Linked DNA regions of Homo sapiens: region 1 is linked to region 2. Evidence: fine-mapped expression QTL. A gene starts in region 2. The other region holds a variant in brackets. All regions are shown on one strand. Distances are between the middles of the regions. Region 1 overlaps ZAN (zonadhesin). Region 2 holds the start of GNB2 (G protein subunit beta 2).

The links. PIP is the estimated chance that this variant, and not a neighbour inherited with it, causes the effect.
Region 1: its variant is the best candidate, but not a certain one, in a credible set for the expression of GNB2 in whole blood (TOPMed, PIP 0.59).

What each region holds. Positions count from the first base shown.
Region 1 is chr7:100,786,167-100,790,670 of GRCh38, reverse strand. It overlaps ZAN (zonadhesin), which reads right to left. Exons shown (of 48, transcript NM_003386.3): 38 at 2,535-2,782; 39 at 1,324-1,453. Among named protein-coding and RNA genes, the nearest start is that of EPHB4, 39 kb to the left of the region's middle. The variant A/G (reference allele first, on the strand shown) is at 1,583.
Region 2 is chr7:100,671,270-100,675,480 of GRCh38, reverse strand. GNB2 (G protein subunit beta 2) reads right to left here and starts at 1,741. Exons shown (of 10, transcript NM_005273.4): 1 at 1,558-1,741. RefSeq lists enhancers at 642-721, 922-1,131 and silencers at 1,562-1,741, 1,992-2,071, 2,082-2,211.

The sequences.
Region 1 (4,504 bases), 120 kb before region 2:
CCTCAAGTGATCTGCCTACCTCGGCCTCTCAGAGTGCTGGGATTACAGGCATGAGCCACCGCGCCTAGCCCTCACTCTTTTTTTTAATTAACTTTTTTTTTTTTTTTTTGAGATGGAGTCTCGCTCCGTTGCCCAGGCTGGAGTGCAGCGGTGTGATCTCCGCTCACTGCAAGCTCCGCCTCCCAGGTTCACTCCATTCTCCTGCCTCAGCCTCACGAGTAGCTGGGACTATAGGTGCCCGCCAACACACCTGGCTAATTTTTAGTATTTTCAGTAGAGACAGGGTCTCACCGTGTTAGCCAGGATGGTCTCGATCTCCTGACCTCGTGATCTGCCTGCCTCGGCCTCCCAAAGTGCTGGGATTACAGGTGTGAGCCACCGTGCCCAGCCTTAATTAACTTTTTTTTAAAGCAGGGTCTTGCTCTGTTGCCCAGTCTGGAGTACAGTGGCTCAATCATGGCTCACTGCAGCCTCCAACTTCTGGGCTCAAGCGATCCTCTCTCCTCGGCCTTTCCAGTAGCTGGGATTACAGGTGTGCACCACCACATCCAGCTAATTTTTTATTTTTATTTTTTATAGAGATGGGATCTTGCTATGTTGCCCAGGCTGGTCTCGAATGCCTGGCCTCAAGCGATCCTCCCGTCTCAGCCTCTCCAGTTCCAGAAGCTGGGATTACAGGCATGCACCATCACACCTGTCTCATTTAAAAAAAAAAAATTTTTTTTGAGATGGAGTTTTGCTCTTGTCACCCAGGCTGGAGTGCAGTGGCACGATCTCAGCTCACTGCAACCTCCGCCTCCCACGTTCAAGCGATTCTCCTGCCTCAGCATCCCAAGTAGCTGGGATTACAGGCGCCCACCACCACACCCAGCTAATTTTTGTATTTTTAGTAGAGATGGGGTTTCGCCATGTTTGCCAGGCTGGTCTTGAACTCCTGACCTTAGGTGATCCACCTGCCTCAGCCTCCCAAAGTGCTGGGATTACAGGCGTGAGCCACTGTGCACGGCCTTTAAAATTTTTTTTGTAGAGACGGGGGTCTCACTATGTTCCCCAGGCTGGTCTTGAGCTTCTGACCTCAAGCGATCCTCCCACCTCAGCTTCCCGGAGCGCTGGGATTTCTGGCCAGTGCCACAGCACCCAGCCAAGACTCTGCCCTCTGCTCTCCACCTGGTCTCACCTCACCTCCTCCTGGTCCTCCTCTGAAGCTGGGTGCCCCACTACCGGGCCGAGTCTGCTCACCAGGATTTGCCTGTCTTAAATAGGATTTTCCCTCCCACTTCCCAGAAATGGCCCTTTTGCTCTTCTTTCCCCTCTCTCCATTACCTGCATTTTTCCTTCCACCAAAGCTGACGACCAGCTCAAAGTCGGTGACCAGGTAGAGCCGTTGGCCCCACAGGGTGACCCGCAGGTGTTCATTTGGCCTGTAGGGGACGGCCATCTTCTGGTTGTTGACCTAAAGAGGGAAGACAGGAGCCACAGACAGGGCTGAATCCTCCTGACCTGCTGCCATTTCCTGGCTGGGCTTCACTTTTCCCAGTCATCTCCATATGTCTCCGTGCAGAGAGTGGAATAAGATACCCCA[A/G]TGGGCTTTGCTATTCACGTGGCAGAAACCTCTGTGAGGTCCGCCCCCTTCCCAGCCCAAGTCCTTCCTTGCAAAAAATTGGCTCAGTGAGGCCGGGCACAGTGGCTCACACCTGTAATTCTAGCACTTTGGGAGGCCGAGTCGGGCGGATCACTTGAGGTCAGGAGTTCCAGACCAGCCTGGCCAACATGGGGAAACCACGTCTCTACTAAAAATACAAAAATTAGCCAGACATGGTGGTGCACACCTGTAGTCCCAGCTACTAGGGAGGTTGAGGCAGGATAATCACTTGAACCTGGGAGGTGGAGGTTGCAGTGAGCCTAGATGGTGCCACTGCACTCCAGCCTGGGCGACAGAGTGAAACTCTGCCTCAAAAAATAAAAATACATTGGTGTAGTGGATGCCATTGGTTCTTCAGCCCAGGATTGACCTTCACACACCTCACGCTCTGTCCTCCTCCTCTCTTCCTCTTGTTTCTTGCCAGCCTCTGCTGCCTCCCCACATGAAGTGAGCTTGTTGCTGAATTTGTTTTTGATTTTGAGACAGTTTCTCTCTGTCACCCAGGCTAAAGTGCAGTGGCAAGATCTTGGCTCACTGCAGCCTCAAACTCCTGGGCTCAAGTGATCCTCCAGCCTAAGCCTGCCCAATAGCTGGAACTACAGGTGTGCGCCCCCATATCCAGCTCATTTTAAATTTTTTGCAGAGATGTTGCGTCTTGCTATGTTGCCCAGGCTGGTCTTGAACTCCTGGGCTCAAGTGATCCTCCCGTCTTAGCCTCCTGAGTAGCTGAGATTACAGGCGTGAACCACTGCGTCCTGCTGACTCTGATTTTACAACCAGCCCACCCCTGCCACAAACATCCCAGGGAACAGGGATCCCTGACTTCTACTCCAGGTGGCCTACCTGGTCCAGCTGCCTCCCCACACCCACCAGGCCCTGGCCCAGCTCTTACCACAAGCTCCAGACCAGCTTGGAGCTGCACTTTATAGCCGTAGACGGTGGTAATCACTTCCTGCAAGAAGATGGAGCTCCTGGGCGGATCCATCTTGTTGCGTCCTTCCACGAGGAGGGGCTCCACCCCCTCAGGCAGTACGTCCACAGTCTTGATCAGAACATAGGTCATGCGGCCTTGCAAGCGGTAGCTGAAGCCGTCAAATGTGAGGTAACGGGGGTCGCCATAGACTGAGCATTGTTCAGACTCTGCCAAGAAGTCAGACAGTGAGAAGGGGCCGGGCGCAGTGGCTCACGCCTGTAATCCCAGGACTTTGGGAGGCCAAGGCGGGTGGATGACCTGAGGTCAGGAGTTTGAGACCAGCCTGGCCAACATGGTGAAACCCTGTCTCTACTAAAAATACAAAAATTAGCCAGGTGTGGTGGTGCGTGCCTGTAATCCCAGCTACTTGGTAGGCTGAGGCAAGAGAATTGCTTGAACCCGGGAGGCAGAGGTTGTAGTGAGCGCCGAGATCGCGCCACTGCACTCCAGCCTGGGAGACAGAGTAAGACACCATCTCAAAAAAACAAAAAACAAAACAAAAGACTGAGAAGGGACCCTGCCCAGGTGTGACAGTCCCCAGAGTCCCTCCCCCACGGTGGCATCCCCTGTGGCCACCCTCTTAGGCTCAGGCTCCCTGGATCCTTTCTTTTCTTTTTTTAATTTTCTTTTTCTTTTTTTGAGACAGGGTCTTATTCTGTCACCCAGACTGGAGTACAAGTGGTACGATCATAGCTCACTGCAGCCTCCACCTCCTGGTCTCGAGTGATCCTCCTGAGTAGCTGGGACTTTAGGTGCGCACCACCACCCCTAGCTAATTTTTTTCTTTTTTTTTTAGAAATGGCCACACTACATTGCCCAGGCTGGTCTTGAACTCCTGGCCTCAAGAAATCCTCCCACCTTGGCCTCCCAAAGTCCAAAGTGCTGAGATTACAGGCATAAGCCACCAAGCCCGGTACCTAGACTTTTTTTTTTCAATACCTACTGACATTCAATTAGAGGCCCTTTATTATTATTTTTATTTTTTTATTTTTTTGAGACAAGATCTCACTCTGTGTCCCAGGCTGGAGTGCAGTGGTACAATCATAGCTCACTGCAGCCTCAAACTCCTGAGCTCAAGCAATTCTCCTGCGTCAGTCTCCTGAGTAGCTGGGACTACAGGCACAAGCCACTACACCTAACTAATTTTTTAAAATTTTAAAATTTTTTGTAGGGACAGGGTCTTCCTATGTTGGCCAGGTTGGTGTTAAATTCCTGGGCTGAAGTGATTCTTCCACCTCTGCCTCCCAAGTACTGGGATTACAGGCATGAACCACCATGCCCAGCCTCCCTGGATCCTTGATCTTCAATTTTCTCTATCTCCTGGCCTGATTAAAAACCTTAGAGGGGGCGGGCACAGTGGCTCATGCCTGTAATCCCAACACTTTAGGAGGCTGAGGCAGGAGGAACACATGAGCCCATGAGTTCAAGCCCATCTTGGGCAACATAGCAAGACCCCATCTCTAGAAAAAAAATAGCAAAATTGGCTGGGTGTGGTGGTCCATGCCTGTAGTCCCAGCTACTTGGGAGGCTGAGATGTGAGGATCACATGATTGCAGGCATTTGAGGTTGCAGCTAGCTATATGATGGTGCCAGTGCACTCCAGCCTGGGCAACAGAGCAAGACCCTATCTCAAAAAACAAACAAACAAGAAAAGAAAAACTTTGGAGGATCTCCTTGACCAGTCCCCTCTTTTTGCCCTGCAGGTGGAGGGTCCCAGAGGGGATCAGGACCTGGCACATGGCCACAGAGTTAGCAAGAGCTAAACTGGAGGCCAGGCCTCCTGATCCAGTCGCCCGCCCCAACCCCTGACTGTGCTGGGGTTCAGGCTAAGCCCCTTCCCACCCTGCCTCTTCCTCCACCTCCGCCCTGGCCACAGGTGCTCCCCTCTC
Region 2 (4,211 bases):
AAAAGCCGATTGGGCGCTAATAGGTTCTGGACGGCTCACCCCGGATAATCCCCGGTCCGGCTGCGCCCCATTAGCCGTCCGCCGCGGGTGGGGGTGACAGCGGCGGGGAAGGCAGCCCCGAGCCGCTGCTCCCTCCAGCGCAGGGACCGCCCGCCCCGCCGCGCCCGCAGAAAGCCCGTGGGAGCCGCTCTCGAGTAATTACGGCTCCGCAACGAGGTCCCCGGCCCCGAGGCGCGGAGGTGCTCTCTCCCAGGCGCGGGCGGGCGGCCCCAGGCGGCCTGGCCGCGGCGCCCTGGACACCCGGGGGGCCCAGCCCGCAGGCTCGGCGCCCGGGCCCCAGGGGCCCGGCTGGCTCCGCTCCGGGAGCCTGAGTCCTTCCCCGCCCGCGGGACACCTGTGCGATCCGGCCGTACACACTGCACTTGGCCGGCCCAGGCGTCCCCCACCCAGCTCCCACTTCCCCCAGGCGCAGGGCGTTCCTCTTCCCCACTGACATTTCCCCTCCTTGTAAGTTCAGCTTTCTACGCCAGTGCCAAGGGGTGACCCTCAAAATCGGGGGATGGGGGGTGCGGGCAGAACTCCTTACTCTACCCAACCCCCAGGCCCGCACAAAGCCTCTTCCACCTACTAGCAGCCCAGGCCTGGCGGCACCGCCGGAGGCCCAGGGCAGAAGGAAGCACGGCTGGAGGAAGAAACTGGGGGCGGGGGCGACGTTCTCAGCCCTCGGTCCCCATCACCCCCCAGGGCCCTCAGCAGCCCCCAGACTCTAGGGATATAGCAGCCGGCGCTCCATAGAGAAATGAGGGTGCAACCGCCTCCGCAGGTCTGGCGGGGCTCAGGAGAGTGACGGGAGGGTCCCTGGATCTGGCAGCTGGAAGGCGCGGGCTGGTGCGGCGCTGCGAAGCGCAGTGGGCCTGGCCCTCCAGCCCCTACGACCTCCATTTTGCCTAAAAGAAAGCTGGGCGGGGGGCGGGCGCCTGGGAGCTGGGCTTGGGGTGAGGATCTGTAAAGGGAATAGGGCGCCGAGGGCTCCAGTTTCGGCGAGTGGGGCCAGAAACCACGGGCAGCACCCAAATCGTGGGTAGGGTGGAGACGAAAGGAAGGGTGGCGCGCGGCCTTGCCTGCTTCTCCCCGATTTTGGAGTTGTGCAAGGCGAGGGCCGGCAGGGGTGCGACAGTGGAGGACACGAGGGGTGCTCCCCGGGGGCAGGCGGGAGGGTGGCGGTGGGGAAAGGGGGCGGGGCGGGGCCTAGAGGAAGCCCGGAATTTAGCCCCCCAACTTCCGAGGGAGCAAGAGGCAGTCGGGGCTGGGCTGGGGTCTGGGGTCGGGCAAAAACTTCGCTGATGGTGCGGGGAAGCGCACGCACGGTGGGGGGCGAGGGTTCCCCAGTTCCCCTTCCGGGTTTGGGAGCGACCGGGCAAGAGGGGAAGGGAGCGGAGGTCTGGGGAGTTACGTCCGCTCCCAGGAGGCCAGCCCCGGGAGACCGAAGGAAGAGAGGTTCCCCTGGGGGAAATTGGGGCTGGGGGGCGAGAGGACTCCTTTTGCCAGCGAAGGTACCTGTGGCGGTGGGACTCTGCGGCGGAGGTCGCTGGCGGTGCGCGGGCGGCGCTGTCTTCCTCCGCGGCGGAGGCGGCGGCGGCGGCGGCGGCGGCGGCGGCGGCGGCGCGGATGGATTTCCTCAGTGGCCCCAGCCCCGCCGCCAGCGCTGCCTCCCCAGAGCGGAGGGATCCCGCCCGCCAGTGACGCGGCTGCCGCCGCCGCGCCCAGGACCCGGCTGGGCGAGACCAACTGCCTCGCACTTGGGGGAAGCCAGGAGACAAAACCCCACCGAGGGAGCAAAGACGGGCCCAGTCGCTCCCAAGGTTCTCACCCTACGCTTTGTGGACGCAAACCGTACTCAAAGGGTTTGCTTCACGGAAAGGAGTAAGACATCCCCCCTCTGGGACTGGAGGAGGTGGTACTGGCATATGAGGAGGGTGAGACCGCTCGCTGGTCACGTGATCAGCCTCCCGCCCCGCCTGGAATGGGTGGCTCCAGACTGGGAAGGGGAGTTCGACGCCCCAGTTCCCGGTTGGGCCACGCCCCGGCCCTGAGGAGGCCACGCCCCTCACCAGGGGGCGGAGCTAAAGAGACCTGGACGGGGCCGGCCTCGAGGCTGCTGGAAGAAGAAGCGCGATTCCGAGAAAGTCCCCGAGCGGGAGTGGGTAGGGGCTGATGCGGGCGCCCCGGGAATGCCATGAGAAGGGTCGTGTCCAGGCATTTCCTCAGCCTCGCCCACTGGGCCTTTGTAGACCCCCTTTCAGGGCTTGCCACTGAAATAACAACTCATTTATTGAGAGCCACACTTTTTTTTTTTGAGACGGAGTCTCTCTCTGTCGCCCAGGCTGGAGTGCTATCTCAACTCACTGCAACCTCCGCCGCCCGGGTGCAAGCGATTCTCCTGCCTCAGCCTCCTGAGTAGCTGGGACTACAGGCGTGTGCCACCACACCCGGCTAATTTTTTGTATTTTTAGTAGAGACGGGGTTTCACGGTGTTAGCCAGGATGGTCTCCATCTCCTGACCTCGTGATCTGCCTGTCTCGGCCTCCCAAAGTGCTGGGATTACAGGCGTGAGCCACCGCGCCTGGCCCGACACTTATTTTTTAATTGGAGTACAGTGACGCGATTGTAGGTCACTGCCACCTCAATCTCCTCGGCTCAAGTGATCTTCCTGCCTCAGCCTCCCTAGTACCTGGGACCACAGGCGTGCCCCAGCCACCATGCCCAGCTAATTTTTAAATTTTTGGTAGAGGTGGGGTCTTGCTATGCTGCCCAGGCTGACATATGTTAAGTCTCACAATACTGGGAAATTAAGTGCTAACATTCTCCCCATTTTCTTTTCTTTTCTTTTTTTTTTTTTTGGAGACAGGGTCTCACTCTGTCGCCCAGGCTGAAGTGCAGTGGCATGATCTCGGCTCACTGCAACCTCCGCCTCCTGGGTTCAGGCGATTCTCCTGCCTCAGCCTCTGGAGTAGGTGGGATTACAGGCGCCCGCCACCATGCCCAGCTAATTTTTTTTTGTATTTTTAGTAGAGACGAGGTTTCACCATGTCGGCCAGGCTGGTCTCAAACTCCTGACCTCAGGTGATGTGCCCGTCTCGGCCTCCCAAAGTGCTGGGATTACAGGCGTGAGCCACCGCGCCCAGCCTTCTCCCCATTTTCTAATAGTGGAAAGAGACCTGAGGCTGCAGAGTTTAGATATGAACCCAGGCAGCCAAAACTTTACTGTACATTCCAGTTTATCTGTATGAGCCTCTAGATGAACCCCTTCCTCCAGGGACCTTGCCTGTAAAGGGACAAGAACGTAGGTCTAGGCCTCAGTTTCCACATCTGTTAAATGGGGATGTTGACAGCATCTGCCCTCCAAGTCCCGGATTCTTACTGAGAACCCCATCGATTGTGGAAATGCTTTGGGAAGTTCAAGGCAACGAATAGCCTTCACTGAGTCCTTGTAATTTGAAAGTATCAAAACACGCAGCCATAAGAAAGAACGAGATGGGGCTCACGCCTGTAATCCTAGCACTGTGAGAGGCCGAGGCGGGTGGATCACTTGAGGTCAGGAGTTTGAGACAAGCCTGGCCAATATGGTGAAACCCCGTCTCTGCTAAAAATACAAACATTAGCTGGGCGTGGTGGCACACACCTGTAATCCCAGCTACTCAGGAGGCTGAGGCAGGAGAATTGCTTGAACCCGGGAGGCGGAGGTTGCAGTGAGCCAAAATCACACCACTCACTGCACTCCGGCCTGGGCAACAGAGCAAGACTTTGACTCAAGAAGAAGAAAGAAAGACAAAAGAAGAAAAAGTAAAAGAAAGAAAAGGAGGGAAGGAAGGGAAGGAAAGAAAAAAAGAAAGGAAAGAGAAAGGAAGAGAGAAAAAAGAAGAAATCATGTCCTTTGCAGCAACATGGATGCAGAAAAGAGAGAGAGAGAGAAAGAGAAAGAAAAGAGAGAAGGAAGGAAGGGAAAGAAAGAAAGAAGAAACAAAAGAAAAGAAAAGAAGAAGAAATCGTGTCCTTTGCAGTAACATGGATGCAGCTAGAGGCTTTTATCCTAAGTGGATAAATTTCTGCAGGAACAGAAAACCAAACACTGCATGTTCTCACTTATAAGTAGGAGCTAAACACTGGGTACTCATGAACATAAAGATGGGAACAATAGACACGGGGGATTA